Linked DNA regions of Homo sapiens: region 1 is linked to region 2. A link means that fine-mapping ties the variant in region 2 to the plasma level of a protein whose gene starts in the linked region. Region 2 holds a variant in brackets. A gene starts in the other region. All regions are shown on their reverse strands.

The links. A credible set is the group of variants that fine-mapping cannot tell apart. PIP is the posterior inclusion probability: the model's chance that the variant is causal. Protein levels are from antibody-based Olink assays in UK Biobank. Linkage for the fine-mapping came from a reference panel and not from the study's own genotypes, which makes the PIPs less certain.
Region 1: C6orf58 starts here. The variant in region 2 is the best candidate, but not a certain one, in a credible set for the plasma level of the C6orf58 protein (UK Biobank, PIP 0.55).

The regions. Positions count from the first base shown.
Region 1 is chr6:127,570,537-127,581,572 of GRCh38, reverse strand. It overlaps C6orf58 (chromosome 6 open reading frame 58), which reads right to left and starts at 4,399. Exons shown (of 6, transcript NM_001010905.3): 1 at 4,087-4,399; 2 at 2,801-2,887; 3 at 1,124-1,308; 4 at 291-391. The coding sequence starts at 4,387.
Region 2 is chr4:40,415,593-40,426,499 of GRCh38, reverse strand. RBM47 (RNA binding motif protein 47) reads left to right here. Exons shown (of 7, transcript NM_001098634.2): 7 at 357-3,220. The coding sequence ends at 596. It overlaps RBM47-AS1 (RBM47 antisense RNA 1), which reads right to left and starts at 367. Exons shown (of 2, transcript NR_199039.1): 1 at 318-367. RefSeq lists enhancers at 1-1,078, 7,771-7,915 and a cis regulatory region at 7,837-7,850. The variant A/G (reference allele first, on the strand shown) is at 4,304.

The sequences.
Region 1 (11,036 bases), not on the chromosome of region 2:
TATATTATATTTTGTTTTCTACATTTAGGAAAATGTATTGTCTGTTGCTTTTTTTTTTGTTTTTTCATGCAAGGCTTTTTTTTCTCAAAATTTTCCCCTTCTTCATAAAACACTTTTTTAAGCCTGATCATGTTAAAATATTTACACATCCTCACTATAATCTCCAATGGTTAGGCTTATTATTTAATATAAAGATTGAAAAACACTCTAGAAGAAGAAGAAAAATATATAAATAATGCCCAAAATTATTTATCATATTAAATAGAGATACTTTAAAGATTCATTCTTACCTGTCTTCAAAACTTTTGATATTATCTGCCAAGGTTGAAGTGTGTGCAGCCCATAAGTACTTCAACAGATCATCAAACTTACTAAAAGGTGACTGCAAATACTAAGGTAAAGAGGTCAAATTTATTAATATTTGAGCAACTATAAAATCCTTCTCCCTGAAATTTAGTCATGTTCAGATATATTTTAGCAATATTGTACATAAAAGAAGAATTTTATTTCTAAGAAAAAGTATGTATATGGCCTTAATGCCTAACACTCTTTAAATAACACAAAAATATTCATTAGTTTTAATAATAGCATATGCATCTATAAGTATTGAACTTCAAGTATTTTCAGAGTTTATATTTTATACCGATCAGGCCTTTATTTTTTCCTGTTAACACTGTTAAAATTACCATAAAATCGTGAGTAACAAAAATATCTTCTTAAAATGTTTCATTAGATCTAAACTAATGCAATAATCTACTAAAGTACTAGTAAATATATCTTTTCTTCATTGATTTTAGTCAAATTTCTTCCAATATCCTAGTGGACATGAAGACTCAATTAATCAGAATAGCTTATTAATCATTCAGCAAAATATCCTGTATGCTCACCATTTTTGTATAATGTATTTGAGGCAAGAAGAATGGATAGATTTATGTTAATGCTGTATTGAGGCAGTAGGTGTTAATGACTCATAACACTCTACAATATACTATTAATATATCATGCATAGCAATTTACATCTGCATACTAAGGAAAATATTATGTAATGCACAAAAAAATCCTAGACGAAATTATATGACAAAATAAACTCTCTTCCTATCTCGTAAGAGTATAAAGAAGGAACCTGGTAAAAGGTGTTCCACTTGTTCATTGTCTCAGGGAAGGATGAACGACAGCTAGAAACATCATAACAAAACTTCCTCTCATTCTTGGGTGGGGGCAAAAGCCTGACTTGGTCTGATGATATCCCCATTACACCAGAATCAACCGCAGCAAGAAAGGGTAATGAAGACAGAAAATAATTCAAATCTGTAAGAACAAAAGATTTACTATTACTACAAGCACTAACAAATTTCAAAGAGGATATTTTTAAGGAAGGCATAAGTCATAAAAAAATTCACAGACCCAGAAACATTATAAAAGCTAACCATTAGGAAAAAAATATTGAACAAAAATCCCCCTAAGGATCAAATATATAACTTTGATTGCATTTCTGTTAATAACCTTATAGTCATAAATATATAACATATTGGCTAAAGTAGTTGACTATATTTTAAAACAAAAAGTAATTTTAATGGATATCATAATATTCATTTTTTCAAAGCATTAAGTAAGAATGGAAGAAAGCTATCAACTTTTCCACAAAATGGTACAAAACCTCTCATTACGGTTTTATTGTGAATTGTACTTGTATTTTTCTCTAAAATATTTTAACATGATTATAGCTTTGGTAAATGAATGTTTTCTATTTTATACACATAAGTTTAATTTGTAATCATGATATCACTAAATTTTTATCTTATTTTATCCTTTAAAGCACAAATTTTGGGTAAGTTTTGACAATAGACCATTAGACTGACAATCAAACATGACTATTTTCACATTTTAAAAAATTTTACCTATATATCACCTATTCCAGCAGACTCAGACATTTTCATTAGTTGGATATTAGGCTTATACTGATTTCCACTAGAAATCAGTGATGTAGAATATTTCATCCTAGACAGGCATTTGTGAATGGAATCCTATGCCACAGTGTAGCAGGCTAATCCTCCAAACTACTAAACCAATCTAAGAATAACAAACTCTGAATTCTAGATCTGTGGCCACTACTATTCGCGAGTCTTTTAAAAGAACTAGGGGTAGTAAGTGGAAAATGCTTAAGGATACATATGATGTGTGTTGCCCTGAAAAAGTGAAATTTAATGTGGTCGTGTTTCTAACTATTGAGAAATACCTCTAAGGATTTGTGGTATAAATTGTTTTCATTACTAAAGCATAAAATTAAATGAAAGAATTAGAAAATACCTTCTGGTTATTTTAGCATTAAGTATATGATTAAAGCCTGAGATTACTGATTGGTATAATGAATTGCAGTAGGTATTAATCTCTGGCATGTTTATGGGTTTCAATATTAACCACATCTGGTCTGAGCAAAATGAAAAAGCATCATTTGTCTTGATGTCTCACTTCTCATCGTTCCTTATTCTGGAGATTCTTTGTCATCAGTTGGACCTCCCACCTAACTACCAGAGCTGGCCCCTCAGAGGCCACTGCTTTTGCAGAACCTTGTTTTCGTCCTTCTGTGAAAAGCTGGATATGTCCTAAGGAATCATTATTGACATTGTGGCTCTTAAATCCCTTAAAGTGACCTAAAGGCCATAAGGTACACGGTGAAATAGATTCCTTTTTAAAATAGGAACAGGATTATTTTAGTTCTGTCTCTGTCCCTAAGATTTTAGGTTTGAATGCTTTCTTTCAGGAAAGGTTAATATCTATTTTGCCACTTAAACGAACATACCAGCCCACCAACTGTCCACAGAGATGCACATATGATCTCCAGATTCATAGCCACAGTTTGTCCTTCGGGTTGGATCAGCTAATCTGCCTGGAGGAGAGAGGATGCACAGTCGTATTTATTATACGCATTTTGAAACTGGCTGTAACTATTGCTTAACCACATAGATTTTGTTTGTAGATACAAAAGCATTTATTTCTGAATGATATGTGTTTGTATTCCCATCATTCTTTTTTTATCTTTTATTTTTTAGTTTCTAATTTCTTTCCTTTTCCTTAACAACACAGTTTTCTACTTTTGAGTTATAGGTCCTAAATATTATTTACTTTTGTAAGGATACTCTCTTCTATTTCCTCCTCTACCTTCTAATCGAAACTATGAAGCAATATGCATACAGATGAAAAGAGATGGTCGAGAGTCAAAACAAACCCCTGCTCTACCACTTACTAGCTTGACTTTATCTAAATAACCTCTAATGCCTTAGTTTTCTCATCTATGACATGGGGATAATAATATTAACTACATTATAAGGTTGTGATGTGAGGTGAGAAAAAGCACCAAAGGTGTTTCACCTGTAATATGCATTATGTAAATATTAGAAAATAATCATTGTTTTTCTTCCAAATGAAATTGCTCTTTTCTTAACCTCTCTCTCACACACAATAATTTCTTTATTGGCTGTGTCATCAGCAGGGAGTGGGCAACAGGCACCACTCTTTCTCATGAGCTTCTATCAACCAGAACAAAAGTATCTTTCAATTCATGTATATTTTATCCCAAAATGTAACTTCTGTCTATACACTGTAAGGTACCTTATTTCCAAGAGGAAGCAAACATTTTACAGAGAAAGATCTTCATGAACAATGTGATGCTTCTTTATAACCTCATATCATAATTAGAACTTCAAGAAATTCAAACTAATTGGACATCACTTTGTATATCCCCTTGACTGTTTTGTTCATCTCATTGCTTAGAAAGGAGTGTGGCACTTAGTAGAACTTCAACAAATATTTGTGAAATGCTCAATAGATGAGATGTGATGTCTTTTCACAGTTGATAACTATGTCTTATGCCTCATTGAAGCTTCTAATAATAACACACAACCCACAAAAGAAGGATTTGTGGATAAGGAGAAGGATAGGTAGAAAAACAATGATTATAAGGGAAAAGAGAACAAGATAAAGAATCAATTTTTAAAAACATAGTAGGGTATATACAGAGTCCAATTTCCCAAATACTTCATAGGTCTATCGGTAGATCATTACAATGAAAACAAGAGTCATTCTTACCTGTCCTATATTGCCAGCCATACTGCAGAGGCAACCCCCATAAAATATTCTGTTCATTATCTGGTGCAAATTTTGCAAAATACCTGGCTGTCTGATTCAATATGATTTTATACATCCCCATTCTCTCAAGGTATACCCAGGGATTAATAATGTACATGCTGTTCTCCACCCTGTAGTCACTGAGCTGACCAGGACTCTCCTTCCACAGAGGGGGCTCTGTCTCTGAGAGATTGGAAGTCCCTGCTAAGGAAGCAGAAAAGGAACCAACTAGTACACAAACCCAGGAAGGAAGAAAAGCCATTGTGCCAGAGCTGGGGATTGCGATCGTAGCAGGGCTTTTATTGGAGAATGGAAGAGGAAGTCATGATATTTGCTAACCTCACAGCATATCAACACTTTGCTTTTTTGTTTTCCTGGATAGGGTGAAAATGTAGAAGAAATTGATGTATTAGCTAACATTTAGGACAATTAAATTTCCCAGACTCTTCAGCGTCAGAATACTGTGTCAGAACCTAAATACAAGGTTAGGCTTGTTTATAATGTATTAGATAAAACTATTTATCAACAAAAACCTTCCAGAAGTTTCCCAGGCTGCATTGTGATTACAAAATACATCACAAATGGCTTTAGAATGCTTCCCTCTAATAAAAATACTTTAACATATTTCATGGAAAATATTAAATAGCTGGAGATGGAAATACTAGGATTTATAATAATCTTCAAATGTGTACTAAAAATATGTGTGATCCAGTTGTAATACAATGTTCTGCTTCAAGAAAGAAGCTTAAAGAATATCTAATTAGCTCAATTCAATAATGAAAGTCAGCCTGCTGGAACAAAACCTGCTAGTTAATTCTTAATATCTATTTTTCATTCTTTATTAGTAAAAGAATCGTAGAATTTTAGCTGGGAATATGGTCTCCCAGAATTAAGGCTAAATTTCCAATTTGCTTTACACAAGCAACCATGTGACTAAGTGTGGACCACAGAGACATAAATAGAAATAGTATCCACAATTTCTGGAACATGTCCTAAAATGAAGGGCACATGTCAATTCCTCTTCCCTTCCTCCATGTTGTGGCTTGGATTATTGATGTGATGATTGAAATTCAATTCTGACCCCTAAACGCAAGGCACTATCTTAGGGATGACAGAATGCAAAGCTGGAGGTGGCTTGAGTCCCAGAGGGCTGTGGAGCCATGAGATGTCCTTGAATTCCTATATCTGAGTTTTACCTGAGCAAGAAACACCCCACTCTCTTGTTTCAACCACTGTTATTGAAGTTTTATTCACACATAGTAAAAATTCTTGCCTTATTAATAGGTAATGCATCTGAAAATCTCAATTATTTACACAATTAGATGCATATGCTTCATAGTAGGTCACTGGTACTGCTTGTTCCTGGCATGGTCCACATTAAACATCCTACAGCATGATTCCACTCTTTTTTCCTGTCATATTATTTACCCAATAGCCATTTGATAATTAATAAATTTTCCAGATATATTAATATAAAAGGGAATGGTAGGAATTGCTACTATAGATCAAGAATGCAATCATTCTGGAAATTTTAAAAGTATATTAAATGTTTATAAGAATATATACGTGAATATGTACTGTAAGATGTGTTACTCTAAAACCAAATGCCAGATTGTTCTCAATGGAGAAATCTTAAGAGCACTCCTTTAAGGTCAGAAATAAAATAAAAATGACCACCAGCATTATAATCATTTAACTTTTCTTTGAGGATACCAAACAATAAAGTTAGTAAAGATAAATAAATTAGAGGTATAAAATTGAGAATGAAGATGTGCTAGTACTTTCCCTTATAGATGATATGACAGTGTTCAGAAAACATAAGAGAATAAACTAGAAGGGTAACTACAAAGAAAAAATTTACTAAAGTGGTTAAGAACTAAATTACTATATATAAATCAATAGCTTTTATATATAAAAGCAATTGGGAAATATAATAGGTGAAAATGGAAGAAAAGTCCTCATTTTATTGTCAACAAAAGGGCCAACATATAAATGTATAATTATGGTAGATCTGTTTGGAAAAATCTCTAAGACTACAAAAAAATTGAACAGTTTTAAAGTCATACAATGTTTCTCAATAGACTCAACATTATCAACATGTTAATTTATAAATTTGTACAATAAATGAGAAATATTAACAGGATTTTTAGATGTGCTTTCTGGAAAGATTTTTAGGACTGAGGCTAAAATTTGCCTAAAAAATAAATTATGAAGAAAATACAAAAACTCTAATAATAATGGATAATAATAGTGAAAGGAAACTTTCCATAACAGATATTAGAAGATTATTATAAGCCCTCAAAAATTAAAGTAACACACCACAGTCATTGATGTAATAGTGTGACCAGTTACAGGTTAAATAAAACAGAAATATTGAACTATATTAGAGAAAGATTTTAAATGAAGACCAAAATACAAATGAGAATTTAAAGAGGAGCTATACTGGAACTAGATCTAGACATTGCTTCTATGTCCACTAGTGGAGTAGTTATTGGAATCCCATATACAGTGGGAAAAAAGTAAGAGCACATCTTGATGGAAAGATATTTGTTAAGGATATAAAAGAAATAATGTCAATAGTAGAATCTGGATCTTCTCATGCAAAAATTATTAATAGAAGAGGAAATAAGTTAGACGCTTACAAATAAACCTCAAATGAACATCAAACATATCACGGCATGCACTGATAGTTACATAACGTGATATTCACTCTTCTCTTATTTCTTTGTAAGAACACCCTTAATCCTTAGCACAACAGAGTCTTCCTGGAATAGAGATTATATTATTTAGTCTCACTGCTAGATGTAGCTACTTGATAAAGCTGTGGCCAAATTGTTAAGTTGCAGCTTTCAAGGAATCTCCTTTATACCTTGTCCTTTATTCTTTGTTATTTCTTCCTCTGCTGGCTGGAATGTAAATGTAACTAGAGACTGATGCTGTCTTAGATTATGAAGGAGCAAGAAAAGGTAGGAGAACAATAAAATAGAAGACTTTTGGTTTCTAGTCTCTACAGCTCTAGATTGTCTACTTCTGATTGCTGTCTCTATGAAAGAAATAAAATTTTAACTTAAGGCAATTTTTTTTTATGGATTTGTACTGCTTGGAGAACCTAATCTGAACAGACATTCTAATTTTGTCTTTCAACATTTCTGTGCCCATTTTTTCTTAACTATAAAGTAGAAATAGTTTTACTGCTCCTAAATCCACTAATTATAACTTCTTTTCAAGGTAAGTTTGTGATATTTGAAAAGATAATTAGTATTAGATACTGGATAGACAATTATATGTTTGAGTCACACACATACAATTACTCAAACTTGAAAAGATCAATGTGAAATAAATATTAGTATCCTAATTTACCAATAATAAAACTAAGACTTATCAGGGTTAAGGACTTACCCAAAATCACATACAGGTCCCAGATGAGAAAGCCTAATTTTGATCCCAGGCCTGCCTGATGTCAAAGCCAGGGCACTTGTAGGCTATGTTGTATTGTGCCACAAAATAATGATGCAAATAATATTACAGGGAAATTTTAACTTAATTAAGAGAAGAAATTGTGTTCAAAAAAATCTGCATTTTATGGCACTTGAAGCTATTTTATTCATTTTCCTAGAATGCTGATTGCAAGTGTATATTTAGATGGCCTTGTTGAGGCAACTGTCAGGAGATTGAAGACAGGGGATCTGTAATGTCAACTTAAGCTTGTTACTAGCAATGTGAATTTGAGGACCCTAAATTTACTCCTCTACAAAAAGAGAATAGTAAAACCATTATTTCTTATTACACAGAGGAATGGGAAAAACCTAAATAAGAAGATGTAGGCAAAAGGAGTAAAAGAGTACAAAACTATGTAAACATTTTTAAAGCCTTTCATTAAAATTAAACAACCACTCTGGAATATGTTTGATCCATTTCTATATTCTTTTTAATATGCACCTTGACTTATCAATGATTTGGTTATATTATTGAATTAGTTCAGTGCAGTCATCATCCTGTTCCTTTTCCCATCCTCAATAACAGTAGAAAAGCTTAGATTCTTTTGTTTGCAAAACACACAGCTCATGGCCACACATGTAGAGTGGTAAGAATCAAAAACTTTTTAAAAAATTGACAAAAAGAAAAGCTATGGTTAACTTTCCTAACATAAAAACAATTCTTGGCAAATATTCCAAAATACTTAACTGGCTGACACTTAAGAAGAAGTATTATCTTACAGTTAATTTGGGGAGTTATATTACCTGTATTTATACAAACATTTTAGTATATTAGAGTAATTATATTTTTCCTGATTAAATATCCTATGGGTATACTGTTTTCTCTGAAAGTGGTTCCTATTTACTCCAGTGTAAAAGGATTTTCACGCTTTTCCTTATGATGAAATATTGAGAATGAAAGCAAAAAAGAAACCACCAAGATGACATCTTCCTTGGAACAAGGATATGAATGTATTTGAAAATCACAGACTATGAAGCATATTTATCAGATAATATAAAATATGCTACACATGAAGACAAAGATATTTACTGAATTCCTTGATGTAATACAGGTTATGCATTACCTTTTTGTCAGGTCTAGAGTCACAACATGGAATATAACTAGATAAGTGATTTTAAAATATTGTACTAGAGATATGATTTAAAATCTTCATTGAAAGATAAATCAGGCCAACGTGTTACTCTGATTATCTGTAATTTTTCCCCTTTGAGAGAGGACACTGTCAGATGTGCAACTTGGTAAAGGAGGGAAAAGAAGGGGAAGTCACCAGATAATACAACTAAGAGCTGATGAGATGAGGGGTTTTACTGTGTGCTGCCCCAAACACCTGGATCCTGATAATTACCCAGAAAAAATTCAAAATATATTGATTCAGACAGTTAAGGAGAGACATGATTGTGGAAAAAGTAAGTACAGATTTGATAGAGATTTATTAAGGCAACTGTGTTTATATCAACGCTGTAGGCTTTACTAGTTCATTCTTCCTGTGTCCTTTCTTCAGATATTCCTAAACTGACCCCATTCAAGATAACCATAATCTTAGCAAGCAATGATACGTCATAATAGAAATTGGAAAATATATATGAATAAAATGAAAAAATATCCTTAAAAGATATTTTGGGGGAAAATGGGGAAATAAGACAATCAAAATACAAACAATTTATATCACAAGAGAAACTGTACTAGAAGACAGAAAAAGAGTTCAGACACAATGAGATCACAGGGGCACAGGGAGGAGAACATCACACACCAGGGCCTGTCGGCGGGTAGAGGGCTAGGGGAGGGATAGCATTAGGAAGAATACCTAATGTAGATGACAGGCCGATGGGTGCAGCAAACCACCATGGCCCATGTATACCTATGTAACAAACCTGCACATTCTGCACAGAATGTATCCCAGAACTTAAAGTATAACAAAAAATAAATAATAAATAAAAATTAATAAAAAAGAAAAAGAGTTCAGACAATAATTACCTATCATCTCAGAAATTATGAACAATAAAAATCACTAAGATGAAGTGTTCCAAAACAGTGATATAAGCTCTTGAAAAACTTGAAACTATCAGAAACGATGATAAATAGACTTGAAGGGCTCTAGAGATGAAGAGAATATAAAATAGTTACAGGAAACAACAAAAGTGGCAATTATAAATGATATAAATAATGTCAGGTACTTAATATTCTATCCTGAAGAAATCACTCAAAATGAAATAGAAAAGGATAAATACTGGAAATAGACATGACAATTATTTAAAAGTTTATACACATAGGGAAAGAAGAGGACCAATACACATAATTTTTCTTTCCTATCTGAAGAAGAGAGTAAAAAAAATGTTGAATAAAAAAATGCAAGGAAGATTTCCTGAAATAAAGAACTTCTTGACTTGGCAGCAAAAAAAAAGAAAAAGAAAAAGAAAAAAAAAGATGCTGAATAGCCTGCACTGAACCATATCCTGGTGACATTACTGAACATAATAGATGAAGACAGAGTAAATGGAATTCAGGCAAAGTAAACAAGTCACATACAAAGACAGAATAAACAGGGTCATTCATATTTTGCCACAGCAATACTCAATACTAAAAGATAGAGTAATTTCTGCAGAGACCATTGAGAAAACAAGTATCTCCTATGAGTTTTATTATAATAGCAATCCCCAAAATTTCTCTGGAAAATTATGTCACATTGAAAGGATTATGAGTAAGAAATCCACTGAACTCTTCAGATAAAGCACTGGGAGGTAGAAGAAAATGAAGCAATACTTACAAAATCCTGAGGAGCTAGAACTAGCTAGCTAGAACTAGAATTGAATATCCAGCCAAACTGCCAGGTGTGGGGCTAAAATAGAAATATTTCTGATATGCAAGATCTCAAAAAATGTTCTTCCTCTTAAACTTTCACTGGAAACTCCTGGAATATAAGTTCTACCAAATAAACAGGCAAACCAAGAAAGGGTAAAACACTGAGTTTGAGAAACAGGAAATGTGAAACAGAAAAGAGGGGAATTCCCATGATATTCATAAAGGGAAGATTGAGATGGAGAGAGCAATCATATTATGAATCATGAGGATGGGGGATTCAAGAAAGAGCACTTTCAAAAATATTAAATAAAACATACATTACCTGATGACTTTGACGATACTGGAAAAAGTTTTAGAGCTCTATAAAAGTTAGTGATTTGTGTTCAGTACAGAGAAAACTAAAAAAAAGAGAAATTAAGCAATTATTAACTTAAGGAAGAAGAAAAAGTTTGCATGAGAAAGAAATAGGATTATGCTGTGTAGGTCCGGTGCCAATAATATTTACATAACCATAATAATTAAACAATAGATATTTATTTCACCACAAATTTTAGTTAACAATTCTAGGAATATAGGATAAAAAGAAATGTGTGAGTGTAGTGTGTAGTGAAAGA
Region 2 (10,907 bases):
CGCCATTTTCTCTCAGGGACTCGAGCATCTGAGGATTTTGGTATCCACGGAGGTCCTAGAGCCAATCACCTGTGAGGATACTGAGGGGCAACTGTATTTCACCTTTCCCTCAGCCTTCCAGGCCTCTCACTTTCACAAGGTGGCATCACTGAGTTTGAGGATGCAGCTCCACCTTACCTCTTCAGTGGCTCTTCTCCCACTTGCTTACAATAATTGCTGTTTGCCCGCCCCTCTGCCTTTCTCTCCCTTGCTTTTGTGTCTTTGTATTCCCGTCTTCTGGGAGAGGCTTGTTGAATGAATGGATGATAGGTACATACACGTGTTCAGGAAGGCTCCTTTTTGTCTCTTCTCCTCAGGGCCGCCCAATAACTCCAGTATACACGGTGGCTCCAAACGTTCAGAGAATTCCTACTGCCGGGATCTACGGGGCCAGTTACGTGCCATTTGCTGCTCCAGCTACAGCCACGATCGCCACACTACAGAAGAACGCGGCAGCCGCGGCCGCCATGTATGGAGGATACGCAGGCTACATACCTCAGGCCTTCCCTGCTGCTGCCATTCAGGTCCCCATCCCCGACGTCTACCAGACATACTGAGGCTGGTGACCAGCACGAAGACAGACCACACAAACACCACTGAAGGAACGCTTGACTATTTATGAAGAAGGAACATGTTGGATTCACACATGCAACCTGAAAGTGAAGAATGTTAGCAGATTTATTTCTGAATTATTTTATATACATGAAGTTTTCACTAGTTTTTTAAGACTATTTTCAACTTAGCATGCCTACGTTCATACATTTCCAAAAGACTTGCAATGGTTCGTGCCTTCATTCCATCTTTTAAAAATTTGTATGCTGTACTACATTTGTATAGAGGTTTTTGTTGTTGTTTTTTTAAGGATATATTTTCAGTATGAAGGTTATTTTCTTAACTTCTGCACTCCAGAGATTTCTATTTTGTAGTACCTTCAATAATATATCAACTATATATTAAAAAAGCACACTTGAGGAGCTAGGGAACTATTTTGAAAAATATATACAATATTTAAAGATACAAACAGTAGTGCTTAAAAATACTACATAAAGCATTATTTTAAAGGTTATACTGGAAAGTGCAATTTTAAAATGAGTAAAACCTCTGTATTTCTGCTGGCATTAAGGGTTGATGGTGTTACCATGTATCATCATGGCGGTACTATTTTTTAAAAGAAATTAAACACTGGATCTCTCCTTAAGCCAACATTGAAAAGACTTGCCGCACTTCTGAGTCCAAACACTGGAAAGCTCTCCTTTGCCACCGTTAGCCGGGGCTCATTCTCCATGTGCCTTAGCCTTAAACATGCCCCCACTCCCACATCTCTCACCCTGTCCCCTCCTCCCCAGATTCCCAATCCCACCGCAATGTTTGGCAAGCCTAGGACTGATAAGTAGCTCTGATAGAGGAGCTGGTGGCTTTTATACTTCTTCCTGGGTTTTTGTTGGGGTTTGTTGTTTCGTTGTTTTTTGTTTTTTTTTTTGTTTGGTTGGGGAAGTATTGTCTTCTACGTGTGCTATTTTCAGTAGCAGAGTAAGCACAAGGTTTTAATCGAGTTGCATAAGACACCTTTGCATAGCTATTTAATTGCCCAATGTAAAACTTTAATGCCATTTCTAATGCTTTTATTCATTTTTGAAGTATGAGTTTGTAGGGACAAAGAATGTATGTTATCGTAGACAAGACCCCCAGAGACTCTTTTCAGCAGAAAGTTATGCTTCTAGTTGCCTTACCATGTTTCTTGCAAAACTGTCCATGGTCCTCAAGGGTGTTGGAAACATTATGTTTATTAAATGGGCCTCTCTTCCTTTGCTGTGCACTTGATGGGTGAACTGGATTGGGGTGTGCACATCCAGGAGGAGGAGGAGAGACCTGTAGAAGTTTAAAGATAGTTTGTAAATATCTTCTAATGCTTGTTTTTAGTCCTTTTATGTTGGAGAAGTTCATGGTATGTAGTTTAATGCAAAATGAAACCATTTTATTTCAATGTTATTAAAAAGGTTTGTTTTATTAGGAAGTTAATGTATTGTTGCAGTGTTTTGTGCCTGTTTAAAGGCTTTTGTTTAGCAGAGTGAATGTAAAATACAGTAAAATGTTAAGATTGTCATCTACTTTTTAAAAAAAAATATCAACTTGGAATTGTTTTTTAAAGGCTCAATCAAGGAAGTGAGGTGTGCAATAAGGTAGCAAGTAAAACGCAGTTGCGTTTTTATGTCATGTTAGAGATCCATACAATTTTCCACTCACGGGATTTTTGTTGATGGCTGAATTCTTGTGGATTCATAAGAGGATCATGCCCTTAGCAAGTACTTTTGTTTTGTTTTAAATTAAGAGATTCCCAAATGCCTTTTTCCCCCTCATCTTGAAATGAGATGAGTTTTTATGTGTAAGCAATATTTATTTAACTATTCTATAAAATTATTGAGTGCCTACTGAGGCCTTTAAGCACCGCTAACATTCCTTTCCATCATTCTTTTAAATGACATAAAATAATTGTGCAATGTTCCTGATGATGTACCCCACAAGCTGCATTCAAACTCAAATCTGTGGGAATGAGTGACTCGACAAAATGTAATTCGGATCAGATCCTCATCCCCTGACTGTGTGAAAAAAGTACTCTCCTTCTAGTGAAGGATTGTCACAGAGTTTCACTGGATGAAACTATGACCCAGTATTCTTACTGTATTTTACATATGCCTGTAAATTATTTGCAAAAAAGAAGAAGAAGAGGAAGAAAGAAAAGAAAGAAAAGAAAGAAAGAAAGAAAGAAAGAAAGAAAGAAAGAAAGAAAGAAAGAAAGAAAGAAAGAAAAAGAAAGAAAGAATAAAAAAAAATGATAACATGGCAACCACCAAACTCCCTTAAAAACAAACATTGGTGACATGGCCAATTAAGTATCAGTGAGCCTCCTATCTGGGACTTATCTGTTCCTATTGTTTCAAAACCATTTCATGTACACTACTGAGGTAAGTTTATAACTTGAAATGTGAACTTTTTTTTTTTTTAGTGTTAAGAACAAACTATATAAATGTAAAAAAAAAGTTTTAGAGTTCTGTTTTCAAACATTGCTAGTGGTTTAGTTAACTTTAGCTGCTTTATATTTGAAAAGCTTTTATTTAGATCTTGCTCCATTTACAGTACATTCTTAGGATGTATGTAGTAAATAAAGCTTTCTTTAAAGCAATCGCAAGACCTTATTTTAAATTGTGTTTTCTTTATACTGATTTATTTTTTCTAAAAAAATTAGGAAAACCCTTACAGCATAGAAAGGATTGGCTAATTCGATATTTTCCGTTGGAGAAATCAGCAAGTTAACGGTCATGTGTTTGTCTTGGGACTACCATTGAAGATGGGTTACATCGGCCAGGTGCGGTGGCTCACTCCTCTAATCCCAGCGCTTTGGGAGGCCAAGGCGGACAGATCACCTGAGGTCAGGAGTTCGAGACCATCTGGCCAACATGGTGAAACCTCATCTCTACTAAAAATACAAACAAAATTAGCCAGGCATAGTGGTGGGTGCCTGTAGTCCCAGCTACGTGGGAGGCTGAGGTAGGAGAATTCCTTGAACCCAGGAGGCGGAGGTTACAGTGAGTCGAGATCATGCCTTTGCACTCCAGCCTGGGCAACAACAGCAAAACTCCATCTTAAAAAAAAAAAAGATGGGTTACATAGCTGAATTGTGAATTATGAGTATCCTCAAACTTTGGCTCAAGTGGTAGGAGATTGAACACTCAAATAATACTCAAATCTGGATTGGAATAGGATGTGACAAAGCCTGTCACCACCCTCAGTGCCAAAGTTTATTTATAATCCCAAAGGCTTTACACGCAGAATTTTAAATGGAGAGAGTTGATGTACATTGAGTTTTCTGATGGTCTCATGAAAGTGCTGGGATGACCTTGATGTTGGTCATTGCATTTGAAACCAAAACCTTCTCGTTTCTCCTTTTCACCGTGCATAGCAAGGTTAACAGGACACTTTCCTTTTCTCTAGAGATCATCACTAACTTCAGACAGTATCTATCATCAAAGCCAATCAGATGACAGGAGGGAAGGTGGTGGATTGTCAATAGAATAAAGTTCCACTTGGATTTGCCAGTGATTAAGAATTTTACCTTCTTAGATTTGAACCTGGACTGTGGCCTCCCAACCTGCATTTCTTGGAATTCTAACTTCCTGCTTCCTCTTAAATGGATAAAGGCCTTTTTAGAGGCTGAACAGACTGGGAAACTTCCCAAGATGACAGCTTATTAGGCAGTGTTTTTAGG[A/G]GCAACAAGAGCTGCTGATCTTCTTGTTCTAGCAAATAAGTACAAAAGGTCTTCAAGTTGCAGGATCACATTCAGGTTAGACTGATCTCTTTAGAAAAAGAATTAACAATCAAAATGAGGAGGCCAATAGCGTGTCACATGAGGAGAATGACTATGATCATGTGATTCACTGGGCTGTTAGGCTTCCATAACCTCAGATGGACCTGTCAAGAACTCAGCGAAACAGGCAGGACAGATAAAGATATGTGACTGGTCAAGATCACACAGCTGGTAATAGGACTCAAATCTATACTCAAGGCCAAGCGCAGTGGCTGCCGCCTGTAATCCCAGCATTTTAAGAGGCCAAGGCAGGTGGATCACTTGAGGTCAGGAGTTCAAGACCAACATGGTGAAACCCCATCTCTACCAAAAATATAAAAATTAGCTGGGCATGGTGGTGGCACCTGTAGTCCCAGCTACTCAGGAGGCTGAGGCAGGAGAATCAGTTGAACCCAGGAGGGCAGTGGTTGCAGTGAGCCAATATCATGCCACTGCACTCCAGCCTGGGTGACAGAGTGAGACCTTGTCTTAAAAAAAAAAAAAAAAAAAAAAAAAAGTCTACACTCAAGACTCCTTGTCCCAGGTTCTAAATGCCCCATTTTTTTGATTCCAAAAATGTCTGTCATGACAACATGCAAAGAACTTAATTGAAAGAAGAGTTAGAAAACATAACCTGATTTTTCTTGTATATTCAATTTTTATATGATTTCTTTATTATAAAGCCTTCTGGGCACTGAGGCTTTGTATTTGAGTTTTTTGTTTTGTTTTGTTTGGATTTGATTTTTATTTTATTTTTTTTTTTGAGACGGAGTCTGGCTCTGTAGCCCAGGCTGGAGTGCAGTGGCGCGATCTCAGCTCACTGCAAGCTCCGCCTCCTGGGTTCACACCATTCTCCTGCCTCAGCCTCCGGAGTAGCTGGGACTACAAGTGCCCGTCACCACGTCCGGCTAACTTTTTCTATTTTTAGTAGGGACGGGGTTTCTCCATGTTAGCAAAGATGGTCTCGATCTCCTGACCTCGTGATCTGCCCACCTCAGCCTCCCAAAGTGCTGGGATTACAGGCGTGAGCCACCGCGCCCGGCCTTGGATTTGATTTTTTAAGTCATAGGAAGTGTGACATTTTGGCATGGCTGTTTAGATGAAATAACGTTTTGACACCATGACCCTAAAAACAAAATCCATCTTCAGCTACTGGGTAGGATGATACAGATGTTCTGACCTTATCCTACCTTTTCCTTGACACATTCACCATTTCTGAACCCCCAAGGTCAAAGGGAGGATTAGGTTTAAATATAGAAAGAGACTCAGGGGACATCCACAAAATGTTTTACATCAATTCCAAGGTCTAAGCTATTGGACTGGGTACAGCCTTTTCTCCTGTCTCCTCTTTTCACTTACTAGTACCCAGCATTCCTGTTTCTAACTCTTCATGCCAATAAATTTAGGGGACAAATGTGATTACCCAAATGCTAACCTGTATGAGCAAGTGCCATGGCCTACTAAAATAGGCTGGGTTTGTGGTCAGAATGCCTAGGGGTGAAACCCCAGCTTTGCTACTTGCAAGTCATGAGACTTTGAAGAAGATGCCTTACCTCTCAGTACCAGTTTCTTAACTGGTAAAATAGGGATAATAATCCTGACCTCATAAGGTTATTATAAAAATGAGATGAGTTGGCCAGGCGTGGTGGCTCACGCCTGTAATCCTAGCACTTTGGGAGGCTGAGGCTGGTGGATCATTTGAGGTCAGGAATTCAAAACCAGCTTGGCCATCATGGTGAAACCCCGTCTCTACTAAAAATACAAAAAATTAGCTGGGCATGGTGGTGTGAGCCTGTAATCCCAGCTACTCAGGAGGCTGGGGCAGGAGAATCACTTGAACCCAGGAGGCAGGGGTTGCTGTGAGCTGAGATCGTGCCACCGCACTCCAGCCTGGGTGACAGAAGGAGACTCCATCTCAAAAAAAAAAAAAAAAAATGAGACGAGTTATAGACAGTTATTTCCTTTCCCATCTCCTTTTTAAACTCTAGTGTGACTGCATTCCTCTTTGTTAATTCTATCAAGCCTTTCCATTTTAAATCCTTTTATGATTTTTTTAACTCTTTCATTCACTGAAATTTTTTATTCTTTTATTCACCTGTTTATTCCATAAACATTCATTGCTGGAGTACCAACTATGCAGGATTCACCAGAGAAATAAATCAACAAAATTGACCCTCTGCCTTCTGGAAACTCCCAGGCATGATAAGACTGTTTTATGGAAGGGGCACACACCCAGGCTCGAGCCAGAGATCTACAAGATGAATAGGAGTTAGGCAGATGAGTAGGGGGAAAAGGGATCGGGAAATGCCTGGGCCCGGAGGAAAGAACACGGTATCATCAAGTCCATGAAATCAGTTCAGGGTGGCTGCCTTAAAGGAGGAGAAAGTGTGAAGAAATCCAACCTTTGCACTGTTCAACATTAAATAGGGTTCATGGCCCTGTGTTAACTGTGGGAGGAAGAGATTTGGTCCCTATGACAAGGAAGCTAGGGGAGCCAGTAATCACAGAGAAAGAACCCTCAATCATTCATTCCTTCTTAGGACTTTCAGGAAATGGTGGAGCCCTGCGTTTATCTACACTGCTGAAGCTAGAGCTGCCCCTAGTGAAAAACTCCCTTCCTGCTGCCTTCCTGGCCCCAGGGGGGGATGCCTCCCAACTCTGAGCTTGTCCAGGAGTTTATAGCAGCAATCAAAGCTTTTAGGGCTGCCCACCTGTTTCTTGTGCAGGTCCAGGTTCCAGCCTCTGGGACCTTCACCCTTTCCTCTTGGGTCATACAGCAGCTGCATGTGGGTGTCCCCACTGTTCCTACGTAAACCCCCCATGGGACAGGAATGCAGGCTTCTCAGCAAAGGTGATGGAGGCCTATAGTCCTCCAGATGACTGAGGGTGGATGATATGGTTTGGCTGTGTCCCCACCCAAATCTCGTCTTGAATTGTAGCTCCCATAATCCCTATGTGTCATGGGAGGGACCTGGTGGGAGGTAATTGAATCATGGGGGCAGGTTTTTCCCGTGCTGTTCTCACAATAGTAAGTCTCATGAGATCTGATGGTTTTATAAAAGGCAGTTCCCCTGCACATGCTGCCCTGCCTGCTGCCATGTAAGACATGCCTTTGCTCCTCCTTCACCTTCTGCCATGATTGTGAGGCCTCCCTGGCCATATGGAGCTGTGAGTCCATTGAATCTCTTTCCTTTATAAATTACCCAGTCACGCATATGTCTCTATTAGTAGCATGAGAATGGACTAATACAGTGGAGGAGAATCCTAAGTAAAATCTTCAGAGACACATTGGCTTCCCCAACAGGATCATATTTCCTTGAAACTCCATTCTGCACAGTTACCAGAAACAAAAGCAACACTAATCCCTGCATATGCAAGAAATATGACCTTTCCTAGGCTAATTTTTAGCCACCCTTCTTTCTTGGCTCGTTCTACTTTGTTTGTCAAAAATCTTCATTAATGATTAACCAACCATGAGGTTTAAATAACCTTAGTCATTCTAAGGCAGCTAAGAGATGTCACTGAAGCCCAGTTTTTTCTGAGATGACCTTGCTGGGGGTGTGCTGGGTCAAAACATTTGCACTTAATGGTATTGTGATAACACTGGGCCATGCCAGTTTGGTTTTGCTGGGATTTTTCCGCTCCTTTTTCACGACCTTTATTCCAAACTGACAGCACCATGAGATAGTTTTACTTCCGTCGACCTCACCACCCTCACACCTCCACCCCCATTCAAATTTGGCCATTTGACCCTTTCTCAATCTTATATAGAGTACTATGCAGACTCAGCTTCCCAATAAACCCCTAATGTCCCCTTTCCAAATAAGACACTCCCCTAAGGAGAGAAATTCTGGAAATGCAACTGATTCTAAATGTGCTCTAGCATTTATAGAGGGAATCTCTTGTGCATAAGAGACAACAGCCAAAATAATCTACTTAGAAATTACCCAACGCTTTAGTGCAAACAGCCGTGCCACTGAGTGCTCAGTCAAGCCTGCCTTCGGCGAGCATGTCTTTTTTTGGTTCCTCATTTTCCTTGTGTTTGGGAATAATGTTAAAGTCTTAGATGATGATCATTCAGCAGGAGATAAGAATAATGGCTGACAGTAACTTACCATATATGCCAATGGTCAAGTACTTTACGTGGATATTTTTTAAACTTTTTATTAAAAGAGTAACATAGATACAGTAGTGTACATACCATAGAGAGCTTGATGAATTTTCACAAACTGAGCACATCCATGTAACCAACATCCAGAGGAGTAACATGACCAGCATTCCAGAAGGTTTTGCATGGCCCTTTCCAGTGACCACCTCAACAAGGGAAACAGTCAAATCTACAGCATAGATTAGTTTTGCATGCATCATGTTTTCACACTTGAGCTTGCTACTCTTAATACCCCCATTTTACAGATAAAAAGCAAGGAGGCAGAAGGAGGTTTCATAACTTCTCCCGAGACCACGTCGCTGGTAAGTGAAACAGTGTAGATCTGAACCTGGAATATCTAACTCTAGAGCTGGGGCTGGGGTTGGAGGGATTATAGATCACCCATTTTGTAAGGATGTAGAGTCATTTGTTTGTTCTAGAAGTCACACCGATCTCCTAATAGAGTCACTTTATCTTAAAGGACATTGGAGCAAGTGGAAAGGAAAGTTTAAAAATTACACACATTGCAGAATATAGATGCAAAACTTTCTGGAGTCTGAAGGTCTTATAGGGTCACCTTTCTACATTTTTTTTTCCTGGTGGCCTCCAAGCCTCTTACATTCTAGCATGTCTTTTATCAAATGTTGCTCTCAGAAAGGGAAGAAATAAACAAATTCATTCCCAAGGAGGTGAGTTATGTGGGGCTTTTTGTCTTTTGTTTGTTTGTTTTGAGACAGGGTCTTGCTCTGTCACCCGGGCTGGAGTGCAGTGGCGCAATCCCTGCTCACTGCAGCCTCGATTTCCCAGGCTCAGGTGATCTTTCCACCTCAGCCTCCTGAGTAGCTGGCACTACAGGCATGTGCCACCACATCCAGCTAATTTTTTGTATTTTTTGTAGAGATGGGGTTTCGCCATGTTGCTCAAGATGGTCTCGAATTCCTGTGCTCAAGCGATCCTCCCATCTCATCCTACCAAAGTGCTGGGATTACAGGCATGAGACACTGTGCCTGGCCTCCTGAGTTATGTGGTTTTCATTGAACAAATCCCTTGTCAACGAAGCTAAGGAAGAAAGCCCTAACTTTGGAAGTTAAGGCCATAGCCAGTCAAATAAAGAGAATAACTTCAAGAGTCAGGAGGTTCTCCACCAGCTCCAGGACACTGTACCACAAAAGCAGCCCAATCTAGGGAGGCTAGCCCAAGCCTTCTGAGTTGCCGAGGGGCCAAATAATTAGACCCTCTGGACAGTTCAATGAATAATTTTAACAACTAGTGTCTCAAATAAAAGATATACGATATAAAATGCTGGAAAGACATGCCAGTCAAGGATAATCAGCTAATCCTTGAATAGCATTTCACTGGCCACAGAAGCCTTTCTAAAACTCTATCTCCCTGATCTTCATGACAATCCTGTAAGATAGTTACAGATGACATTCTCCCCTTCCCATTCATTTAACAAATGTTTTGTTTTTCGAGCATTTATGTGCCAGGCTTTGTGATGGGGCCTAAAGACAAAATGGTGAACATGATCTCCATTTTATCAAGGGAGAAATTGAGGCCTAAAAAGGATAAGTTACTTGCTCAAGATACAATGATACTCAAAATTCAATTTTTTTTTTTTTTTTTTGAGACAGTCTTGCTTTGTCTCCCAGGCTGGAGTGCAGTACACTCTCCGCTCACTGCAACATCTGCCTCCCGGGTTCCAGCAATTCTCCTGCCTCAGCCTCACAAGCAGCTGGGACTATAAGCCTGCGCCACCACGGCCGGCTAATTTTTTGCATTTTTAGTAGAGACAGAGTTTCACTGTGTTGGCCAGGCTGGTCTCGGACTCCTGACCTCGTGATCTACCCACCTCAGCCTCCCAAAGTGCTGGGATTACAGGCGCGAGCCACTGCGCCCGGCCTCTTGCTTCTCTTTCATTTGCCTTCCACACTGGGGCCACAGTGATCTTCCTAAAACCAAATCTGAGTGTCACTTATGTCACATATCTTTAGAAGTATCCCACTGCTGACTGTACCAAGTCCAGCTTAAAACACACAAGGCCCTTTATAAACTGGCCTCTGTGCACGTCTTCAGAATTATATCCTGCCAGTTGCATATGGGCAGAACGGATATCCACTATGCACTGGTATGTCCATTTTGGTCACTTACTGCCCATGTTCCTCTGACTGACCAGTGCCTGTCCTGGTTACTGAAAACTTTGATTTTGTCTTTCACCTGCTTACCATTCTCTCCCATTATTCCGAAATATTAATATTTGCAGTTCCTTTAAAAAGCTCCCTTCCCGGCCGAGCGCGGTGGCTCACGCCTATAATCCCAGCACTTTGGGAGGCCAAGGCGGGCAGATCATGAGGTCAGGAGATCGAGACCATCCTGGCTAAC